2 separate regions of the Homo sapiens genome follow, and region 1 is linked to region 2. The links come from fine-mapping of genetic effects on gene expression. A gene starts in region 2. The other region holds a variant in brackets. All regions are shown on one strand. Distances are from middle to middle. Region 1 overlaps ARHGAP45 (Rho GTPase activating protein 45). Region 2 holds the start of ARHGAP45 (Rho GTPase activating protein 45).

Evidence for each region. PIP is the estimated chance that this variant, and not a neighbour inherited with it, causes the effect. A credible set is the group of variants that fine-mapping cannot tell apart.
Region 1: its variant is the best candidate, but not a certain one, in a credible set for the expression of ARHGAP45 in fibroblasts (GTEx, PIP 0.68).

The regions. Positions count from the first base shown.
Region 1 is chr19:1,085,456-1,090,810 of GRCh38, reverse strand. It overlaps ARHGAP45 (Rho GTPase activating protein 45), which reads right to left. Exons shown (of 23, transcript NM_012292.5): 23 at 4,183-5,151. The coding sequence ends at 4,805. It overlaps POLR2E (RNA polymerase II, I and III subunit E), which reads left to right. Exons shown (of 8, transcript NM_002695.5): 5 at 666-724; 6 at 849-927; 7 at 1,260-1,339; 8 at 2,091-4,237. The coding sequence ends at 1,325. Among named protein-coding and RNA genes, the nearest start is that of POLR2E, 7.2 kb to the left of the region's middle. RefSeq lists enhancers at 1,756-1,855, 4,422-4,921. The variant A/G (reference allele first, on the strand shown) is at 2,525.
Region 2 is chr19:1,064,269-1,069,623 of GRCh38, reverse strand. It overlaps ARHGAP45 (Rho GTPase activating protein 45), which reads right to left and starts at 2,457. Exons shown (of 23, transcript NM_012292.5): 1 at 2,129-2,457; 2 at 880-1,210. The coding sequence starts at 2,218. ABCA7 (ATP binding cassette subfamily A member 7) reads right to left here. Exons shown (of 47, transcript NM_019112.4): 46 at 4,453-4,693; 47 at 4,052-4,354. The coding sequence ends at 4,199. RefSeq lists enhancers at 158-317, 2,508-3,014 and silencers at 708-807, 1,338-1,577, 1,888-2,647, 4,488-4,537.

The DNA of each region.
Region 1 (5,355 bases), 21 kb before region 2:
TGTTCCTATTAGTGCATGGAGGACAGGGTTCTCAAAGGGTGGCCCTGGGCCTGCAGCAGCCGAACCCGGGAGCTTCCTAGAAATGCAGATCCCGGCCGGGCGCGGTGGCTCACACATGTAATCCCAGCACTTTGGGAGGCCGAGGCGGGCGGATCACGAGGTCAGGAGTTCCAGACCATCCTGGCTAACACGGTGAAACCCCGTCTCTACTAAAAATACAAAAAAATTAGCCAGGCGTGGTGGCGAGCGCCTGTAGTCCCAGCTACTCGGGGAGCCGAGATTGTGCCACTGCACTCCAGCCTGGGAGACAGAGCAAGACTCCATCTCAAAAAAAAAAAAAAAAAAAAAAATGCAGATCCCGGGCCCACCCCAGCCTGTAGAATCGGGACTGCTGGGAGTGTGGAGGGACCCTAGTGCTGGGACAGGAGGAGTCCCAGCAGGAGGTGGCTGTGCCCAGCCCGTCTGCCTCAGAAGCCCCAGGAGCTGTGACTCCGTCCCCCGCCTGTGGAGCCAGGGTGGGGTGGGTGGGCTCCCTGAGTGCCGGGGATCGGGGTGGGGTTCAGGGCTCTTGTCCGTCTGAAGGCGCAGGGGCTGTGGTGGCACCTGGGAGCCACGTGGGGTCTCACCAGCCCTTGGTGATGCCTGGTGGCTTCCTCTCTCGGCAGCTAGTCCCTGAGCACGTCGTCATGACCAAGGAGGAGGTGACAGAGCTGCTGGCCCGATAGTATCCTTTCCAGCCCCACCGGCCCCGCCCCTCCCTGTCCCTCGAGACTTCCGCGTTCCCCCCCCACACACACCCCTGCCCCCCCAACGGCCCTGTCTGGCATTTTCCTGACGGTGCTTCGCAGTAAGCTCCGAGAGAACCAGCTGCCCAGGATCCAGGCGGGGGACCCTGTGGCGCGCTACTTTGGGATAAAGCGTGGGCAGGTGAGCCCTGTGGGGAGAAGGGGCCCTGGGGCTGCTCTGAGCTGACCACTCGGAGAAGGGGGCTTCTGTCCCTCCCCGACAGCCCCTCCCCCTTGATCCAGGGCCTGGAGGGGACCTCGAGACCACACCCCCAATATCCCCCTCTTAAAGCCAGGGCCACTGGGCCCAGAGAAGAGCGTGACCCAGGTTCCCAGGGAGCGGGTCCCACAGCCCAGGGTCAGCCATCTCGGACCCCTGCCGGCCATCCCCAGCCCGTGTGCTGCCCGCCTGCTGTCTGGTGACTGCAGTGAGACCCCTCAAGCATTCGCAGCCCCTGCTCTCTGTCTCTGCAGGTGGTGAAGATCATCCGGCCCAGTGAGACGGCTGGCAGGTACATCACCTACCGGCTGGTGCAGTAGCTACCGCCTGACAGGTGAGACGGCCGAGGGACAGGCACTGAGGTGGGGTCAGAGGCAGGGGTGTCGTCCCCTCCGTCGGTGTGCAGGGCTGTTCTTGCTTTGTCCGGCAGCAAGACCCTCCTAGCACCAGCCCAGCTGGGCCACCAGGCGCTCCCAGGACACCCCCAGACCCCCAGACCCCACCCGACCGTAGGCTGCAGCTCTTGGGGCTGTGCGCCTGGACGGGAGAGTCCTGGTACGCGGGGCGTGCGTCTCTCCGCCGCTGACCCACCTTAGAAGCAGGAGACGTTCACCTGCAGGGCAGTTGTGCGGCGGGACTTTCCAGAAGAGGGTTTAGAAACCTGCCCAGAGACCCCAGAGCTGAGAGAGGAGGCACAGCTTCAGGCCAACCCTTCCCTGAGTGGGCACCTTGGGAGGGACTGGCCGGAGTCTCAGGAGCGGGACAGCCTCTGCCCATGGCGAGAGCCTCCCAGCTTCCCCTGGACTCTGGTCATGGCGAGCTGCTGTCCTGCAGGCCGCCCCACTTCACACTCAGCCCAGGGGTGGGGCTTGGCCTGGTCTGACGCTGGCACGGTTCCTTTGAGGTCAGAGCTACTGCCCACGCCTGTGTGACCGCTGGGCACAAGGGAGCCGTCCGGCCTCTGCACTGCGGCCTGGGCCGCCTCCTGCCAGGCCTCCCGCACCCCGTCACGTTCGGTGGGCGTTGTGCTGTCCTGGGCATACTGGATCTGCCCCTGTCGTGTGACCACTCTCCCCCTTTCCTAGCCCCTAGAGGCGGACACACAGCGACCCCCATCCCTGCAGGACAAACGCCCCTGCCCTGCCAGAATCCGGCCCCCACAGCTCTCACGGCTGCTGCTCCTCTGGACTCCCCAAGGCAGGTGGCCTCCACCCACGTTCTCCCGTCCTGGGGTGAGGCTTCCTGTGGCCCAGCCCGCCCCATTCACCTGTGGATTTGTGCGAGATGCAGCCTCAGAAGGAACAAGGCCCCCAGAGGGAGGTCACCTGGGGGCAGCTGGTGCCGGGTCTTCACCCAGACCACGCTGGGTCCCCTCTGTTGGGGGTTTGGGGTCCGGGTCTCCCACCAGCCACTGCTTCCTCCTGGGCCCTCGGCCTTCCACCCCTCGTCTTCCCTCCCTCGGGGGCCCTGATGCGTGGCGGCCCCCGCCCGGCCTCGGCTCTTTACTCCATTCACAGCC[A/G]TGCACGCGCTCAAGCCACCAGGGTGCGAGATGCCAGCTCTGGAGTTCTCGGTTGTTGTAGGAGGTTGGGTGTTTTCAAATGGTAAAGATGTTTTGAGCAAATAAATTTGCTTGATACAGAAACCAGGCCGACTAACAAGGTTTCCAGCAGGTGGCCTTGCCTCACCCCAAGCACACGAGGTCAGCCTGGCAGGTGTGCCCTCCTCGCGCTGGCTTCAGGGGTCAGTGTCTCCCCAGGCCCTCGCCCTGCCCTCCCACTTCGTGCTCCTGGGTAAGGCGTGAGCGTGTCTGTCTCTTCCCTTCCCGTGAGGGTGTGGAGTTGTTCTCTGGCTTGTGCAGCTGTGGTTTGCGGCCAGTTCCTCTTACAGACGTTTGGGATCTGGCTCTACTTCCCCGTTTGCTTACTGTCTGATTTCAGAAGGCCTCGCCTGCCCAAGTTTAACCTAGCCACGTGGTTCTCTCACAGTAGCTTTATTAAGATGTAATTCACCCTCGGGCGGTCGGTGGTCTGTAACGCGCCCACTGTTCTGTGCAGCAGGGTCCCCAGATCCCCAGGCCGCGGACTGTGTGTGTGATGGGGACAGTGCTTCCCCTTCTCTCCAAATGTACTTTTTTCAAAATTGTCTTGGCCAAAGCAAGCCAGACCCAAAGGGACAAACACTGATGTCACTCCTAGGAGGTCACTAGAGTCGTCAGAGACTGGAAGTAGGATGGGGGTTCCCGGGACTGGGGAGTTGGGTGGGGATGGGGGTTCCCAGGGCTGGGGAGGAGGGAGGGGACAGAGTGTGTCATGTGCACAGTTTTAGTTTGGGAAGATGAGAAAATTCTGGAGGTGGCCGGGCGCGGTGGCTCACGCCTGTAATCCCAGCACTTTGGGAGGCCGAGGTGGGCGGATCACCTGAGGTCGGGAGTTCGAGACCAGCCTGACCAACATGGCAAAATCCCATCACTGCAAAAAATACAAAAATTACCTGGGCGTGGTGGTGCATGCCTGTAATCCCAGCTACTTGGGAGCTAAGGCAGGAGAATCACTTGAACCCAGGAAGTGGAGGATCGCTTGAGCTCAGGAGTTAAAAGACCAGCCCGGGCAACACAGAGAAACCCCCCACCTCTACAAAAAACTTTAAGATTACCTGGGCACAGTGGCTCACACCTGTAATCCCAACACTTTGGGAGGCTGAGGCGGGAGGATCATTTGAGCCCAGGAGGCCGAGGCTGCAGTGAGCTACGATTGTGCTCCTGTACTCCAGCCTGGGCCACAGGGTCACACCCTGTCTCAAAAAAAAAAAAAAATGCAGTTCCACAGGCGCATGGGCCACGTTTCCAGTGCTTGGTGGCCATGTGGGGCTGACGTGCGAAACCTTAGAGCCGGGGGATACGTCCGTCATCGAGAACGTTTTCCTGGACTGCCCTGGGCTGCAGGTGGACGTGACGAGGTCATTCGATGCCTGACCGTCTGCACAGCCTGTGGTGAAGACCACCCGGGCTCCCACCTCGCGGGGCCCCGTGGCGGGGGGTTCCCTTCCTCACACATCCCTCCCCTAGGGGGAGGCCCAGGGCCACGCCACGGGGCTCTCTCTGTCCCCTCCCTGGCCCCTTCTTCTAAGCTTGCAGCTGCCACAGAAAATCTTCTAAGCTTGCAGCTGCCACAGAAAACACCCGATTAAAAACTTTTTATTTCAGCAAAATAAACGTGCCTGTGAAAGAACCACACGGTGGCTTCCGAGAGACCCCACTGTGTACCTGAGCCCCAGGTGGCCACACCTGGTGTTCTGGAAAAGGGAGTCCAGGGCCAGTATTCAGGCCCTGCTGTACTGCACCCTGGAAACTGCACCAAACCCCAGCTCCGCCCCCATCCACGGCTCCCAGAATGGTTTCTGGAGTCCCTGCAACAGACCTGTGAGGAGAGGGCAGGGCAGGGCCTGCCTCCTGCGTCCCCGTGATGACCTGGGGGATGCACTGGGCAGGGACAGCTTCCTCCATCCACACAGCCCTGTGGGCACCAACAAGGCCACTGTGACTTCACACGACAGCAGTGTTCCCCAGCTCAGCTGAGCCGGGGTGCAGGGGACAGCACAGGGCACAGTCCTGTGCCGCAAGGCCCTCGTGCTCCTGGAAGCCTCTGGGAGGAGGCGCCCGCTGGTGGGACGTCGAAGTCCAGGCGCTCTCGGCAGCGACCCCAGGACGGCGCACCTAAGCTATGCCGTGGTGCAGGGGACGTGCTGGAGGGACAGGAGCAGGCAAGAGAGAAGCCACCTGTGGTCCCAGCCCCACCCCAGCTCACACGAATTCCGGCTGCCTTTCCCTGCAGGAGCCCAGTGTCATCCGCCCGCCACGGAGCCTCATGGGGGGCAGTGGGGCCTGCAGCACGTTGTTGGACTGGTTGGTGTTGAATCCTGAGAGCTGCTGGGCCGGGCCGTCCTCGTCCCCGTCCCCGTCCTCCCGGGCTGTGGCCTCCAGCTGCTCCTCACTGCCGCTGTGGCTGCCAGAAGCCACCTCTAGGCTGGCCTCGCTCTGCTGCTGCTCCAGGAAGCTGAGGTGGCCCAGGGCACTGGCCTCCGATGAGGACAGCAGCTCGGAGGCCTCCTCTAGGTCCGAGTCCGAATCGTTGGACACAACTCGGGATTCTAAGAAAGGGAGACAGATGGCGGGGGGAGACAGACAGGAGAGATGGAGGAGAGACAAGGGGAGGGACAGACAGGAGAGATGGGGAGAGACAGGAGAGGGGGGAGAGAGATGGAGAGACAGGAGAGATGGGGAGAGACAGGAGAGATGGAGGAGAGACAAGGGGAGGGACAGACAGATGGAGAGACATGGCGGGGAGGAGGAGA
Region 2 (5,355 bases):
GCCTTCCCCAACTAGTGCCCTGAAGGTGCAGAGGCCACTCCACCACTTGAGGTCCAGTCCTGGCTCTGCCCTGCCCTGGCTGGGTGAGCCAGGGGTCAGGGCCTCACTAGAGACTTAGTTTCGTCATCTGTAAAATGGGCGGCTGCTGGGAGCAGATCAGAGCGCCTGGCATGACCCTGGCACTGTGGTTTCTGGGAGGAGCCGGGGGCTGAAGGCAGCACATGAGGTGCCCGCCTGGGCTGCCAGGGACAAACAGGAAGCAGATGAAAATAACTCGGCAGGAAGCAGGGCTGTCAGCGGCCGCGTGGAGGAGAAAACGGAACTGCCGGCCTGCAGGCCGCTGGGTCCCAGCACCTCCGCCGCCTGATGACCCCATCCTGCCCCTCGCCATGCCTCCTGAATCTCTCTCCACCCAGACCTCAGCCAACCCCCAGTTTGCTTCATTCCAAGACACAGATCTGCCCCCATCTGTCCTGTGCTCTAACACCTTCTATGGCTCCCCATTGCCCTTCTGCCTGGCGTTGTCATGCCTTCATCCTACACCAGCGGCACCCCACACCTTGGCCCCCAAATGCATTCTCTGTTTCCGTGTTTCTGAGCCTGTGCATGGGACATTTCCTCTGCCTTTCCCTCCTAATTGCCATCAGATCCTTTAAAAAAAATAAAGTGGGCACCCTCTTGAGCCAGTGTACGCTCAGGGACTCCCCCACCAAACTCCTACACATCCCTCAGAGCCTTAGCTGTCATGGCCTCTTCCACACAGCCCTCCCTGCCATCTGAGCCTCCCTCCCTTCTGAGCCTCCCCAAGTCCCTCCCTCCATCCTCCCTTGGGTCTGGCTCTGTCTTCCACCCAGGCCTCGGTGTCCCCGTGGCTCTCACCGTCACGCAACACACACTCCTTAAGTTTCTCAAGGCCCTCAGCGAAGCGGGCCACGTCCGCCAGCAGATGGGAGATGTCCTCGACGACGTCCGGGCCGGCACCCTCGGTGGGCAGCTCGCCCGGGCTGGCGGCTGTCAGTGGGCTCCGGTGGCTCCGGCCCAGTGTCCAGGAGGCAGCACCCGACAGGGGGAAGCCAGCCGCGCTGGCGTGGCGGCTCAGGCTGGTGGGCCGCTTGAGGGTCCCTGTGGCCTTGACGCCGGAGGACCCAGCGGGCGGCTCCAGGCTTGGTCCGGGGAACACCGCGTCAGCCCCATCCTTCCTGGGCAGCTCCTTGGGCAGGTCCGAGGGGAGCTCGTTAAAGGGATTTTCCGGCCTGGACACGGCCTCAGTTTCCCCAGAAATGAAGTGGGGCTGTGGAGGGCCACCATCACCCTGACCCCACAGGGGTCAAAGGCCAGAGGTCACAGGGCCGAGATTTGGTAGTGTACCCCCCCACCTGTTACCCAACATCCTCTTCCCTAGAGCTTTCACAAACAACGGTCCTTGCCCAAACCACAGCCGGGGCGGGGCCTGCGGGGAGGCGCGGGAGGGGGGTCCCCACTTCCTGGTGGGGGTGGGGAGGGTCCTCAGCCCTTCAAGCCCCCCTCAGGCTCCTACAACGCAGGTGCTTTAAGTGAACACACTTCTGACTCTGTCTGTCCCCTAAAGGTCCATGGAACCCCAGAGCCTATGGGCAGCCCCAGGCCTTGTAGACATCCCGGACCCCCAAGCTCTGTAGACCCCCCCCCCAGCTTTGTAGACACCCCAGGCCTGGGGACACTCCCCAACCTCTGAACCTGGTGGATCCCATTAGAGGATCTGCTGCCCGGTCAACCTTCAGCCCAATGGCCAGGCCACAGCCCTCCCATCTCAACGGCCCCTAGAGCCCCCAGATTGCCTAAGCCCCCAACCTGCAGCGGCCCAAACACAACATCGTCCCAACCCGGCACCCTCCCTTCCTGCTCCCTGGGCCCCGCGGCCAGCCCTGGATGGAGTGGAGGGAGGCGGCCACCACTCCCAGGGTCCCTACCGTGAGCTGAATGCCGGGGTCCCGGCCTCTCTGCTGTGGCCCCTGCCGTCCCGCCCGGTAGGGGCTGTAGCTGGCACGAGCCCCCAGCCGCCGCCCCAGCATGAGCCCCGAGCACAGGGCGGGTCCCTGTCCCCCTGCGGCCCGGCGTCAGCTCCGGGTCTCACCCGGGCTCCACTCACCCCCGAGGGCTGCGGGCTGGGGCTTCCCGCGCGGTTCTTTTTCGAGATGGAAGGGGTTTTCATGAGCTCTCGTTTCTTCCTGGAGAACATGATGGGGCCCCGGCCGGGAGCCCGAGGGGGCGGGCTGGGGGTCTCAGCGCTGCAGCTCCCGGCGCTGGCCGCTTCGGGACCACATTGTCGCCGGCCACCCCCTCCCCAGCTGTCAGGCCCACGTGACAGGCCCGGCCGTCACTGGCGGGCCCTCCCCCCAACAGGAAAAGGCTTCGGGGAGGCGGCGACGCGGCCTCGCCCCCGACCCTTCCCGGCCTCAGCCTGCGGCTCTGCGGAGTGGGCGCGAAGGTGAGGTCGCAGGCCCCGCCCCCAGCCCCGGGCCGCGCCCCCCGCTTCCGCCTTCGGGAGCTCGGAGCCGCGCCGCTCGCGGGGTGGGACCGGGAGCCCCTGCCTGACGCTGGCGGGCACGGGGCGGCCGACTGCAGGGCGCTGACTCTCACTCCCGGACGCGAGTGGGCGTGCACAGACACGTGCACGATGACACGCAGAGACCCGGACCTCCACACGCGCTCAGACGCCACCAAGCCCCTGGAGCCTCGCCCTCAGACCCCAGACACACGCACAGGCCGAAGCTGCGCCCCTGCAGCCCCCTTTTCCCTGAAGGCAAGCCCGCTCCACCGCCTCTCCTGCAGACCCTAGGGTGTGGCCGGGCCCCAGCAGGGCCGGGCAGAGTAGGGTCCCCCCCATCACCCGCCCTGCAGCCCCGTGAAGTGGGTCAGGTCGAGGACAGGTGGGGAAACTGAGGCCCAGAACCGAAACCCTGGGGGCAAAGACGTCCAGGAAGTCAGAACAATCCAGGTTACCGGGCCCTGTCCGTCTGGGTCCCCACGTCCGTCTGGGTCCCCACGTCCACCTGGTCCTGGGCTGCCTGCACAGGGGTCCCCAAAGTGTGGTGTGGACCCCACCATCGGCAGAATATGCTGAGGACACCTGGTTACCTCTCAGCAGCCCTGTGGGCCATATCATGTTGCCCCAGACCTGCCCTTAGCTAAGGTCCCCAGCCCCGCCTCCCAAGCTGCATTCCAGTGACTCTGGACCACCGGACGTGCTGGGCAGCAGGACGCAGGCACCCGTTGCTGATAACAGCCTGAGGCGGCATTGGCCAAGAGCTGGGGCATCTGCAGGCATACAGATCCCAGCCTCCTACCTTCCCCCAACCCCCACCCCGCAGTGTGAACTCTCTCCCCCCTCCCCAAGTCTCCCTGCTGTCCCCTTCCAGAACCCCACCCCCAATCCCAAAACCCCAACCTCTTTCCTTTCCCAAACCCCATTCCCACCTACCTCGGGTGGGAGGGGCAGATCTCTGGGGCACAGGACATGAAGGCCACAGCCCCTTGCTCCAAGTCTGGCTCTCCAGGCCCAGGTCCAAGTGCAAACCCAGCCCAGCAGACCCTTGAGAACTCTTTGCCCCCGACTCATGGCGCTGAGGGCTGGGGTCAGAGGGTGAGGGTCAGCTGGATGTCGGATGGGCTTCTGGCCCGGCCCTGGCCTGTGCTCCGGGACACCGGGCTCCTGTAAGCTTCCCAGGACATTCCTGAGTCCTGACCTCATCCCCACTTTATGGCCAGGCACTTACAGGTACCGCCCTTAGGCGCCAGCCCCACATAGGCACGCAGGGACGTGGGGACAGGGACGGTGTGACCAGGCCCTTATGAGGCCCGCACTCACATCCCCAACTCCTGGGCTGGCCACAGAGGCATTTACAGCTGGGATCCGGTCAGCTGTAGGCACGCTCACACCTGTGTCCTATGAATCGCCACTTGGCCCGTATGTGCACACTCAGCTTGCAAGGGGCCAGCCATATCCAGACGCATGTGCAGGCAGCTGTGTGGACATGTGTGCAGCCTGGCTCAAGGACACACATGCACACGGTTTCACCACCACGGCTTCTCTCCAGCCTTCTCTTTATTTTCTCCAGGGCACCAGCCCCTCTGCCAGCCTGAGTCCAGGGCTCCTAGGCACTCTACCTTGCCCTTGCCATTCCCAGGGCCTCCCCGCGGCCCCGCAGGGGAGGGAGGCTCAGAGCACAGTCTCGGCAGTGCTAGGGTCATCGAGGAACTGGCTGACGCGTTTGGGGTGCTGCAGGCCTGGCGCGGGGTCCACTCCCACTCCTGCCTCCTTCTGCTCTTCGGTGTCCTCGTCCTTCCCCTGGTCCTTGGAGAAGTACAAGAATACCTAGCGGTGGGCAGCCCAGAGGGGACAAGAGGGACGGTCAGCCCACGGGCCTGGCCCCCAGCCTGCCTCCCCCAGCCCGACCCCGGCGCCGTGATCACCTCCTCCAGCATCGTCTGGCTCACGGAAAAGTCCTCCACGCCGTGCTCTGCGCCGTGCACCGCCAGCTCTCCAAAGACGCGCGCCAGGGCGCAGCGCCCTCCCGGCGGCAGCTGGAAGCGCAGGCGGCCTCCATGTGCCTCGCGCAGCTCCGCCCCAGGGAACTCGGCCGCCACGAAGGCCGCTGCCGGCTGGGACCTTGCGGCGGGCACCCGCAGGGTCAGTGTGTGACCCGCCGCGAATCTGCAGTGAGTGGGGCCAGGGCTACCGGATCGGGCCTTTCCCAGGTCCCACCTCAGCTCACCCTCCAGCCCCTAATACTCTCTGGCCCCGCCCCATACTTGTACTACCCTAGCGATCAAGTGGTCCTCCCGTCTCAGTCCCCCGCCACCCCCCGCCCGCGTAGCTGAGACCACAGGCACACACCACCATGTCCAGCTAATTTTTAAATTTTTTATAGAGATGGGGTCTCCCTAGGTTGCCCAGGTTGCTCTCGAAGCTATCACCCCACTTGACTCCTTTTTCGGACACTCCTCTTTCGCCCTTGCACTCTACCCCCGCCCACACAATAAATACCCCCGCCCCACTTTCCTATGGCCCCGCCCACTAACCAGGCCCTCCCCTAACTCCACCCATCAATCCACCCTCACCTCTCCAGGCTGCACCTACTCCAACGCACACCTGATTGTGTCTTCTAAATCCACCCAGAGCCCCCGGCTCACGCCTCCTGGTCCTGCGCCCCCAGCACACCCCAGCCTGTCTCGCCCCCTCAGTCACCCCTGCAGGACAATCTAAAGCCTTGGCCATCTCTCCAGTTGGAGCCAAACTTTCCTCACCCGGCTCTACGTCTGGCCTCTCCCCTGAGCCTACCTACGTGCCCACCCTCACCCCACACCTGCCTGGAG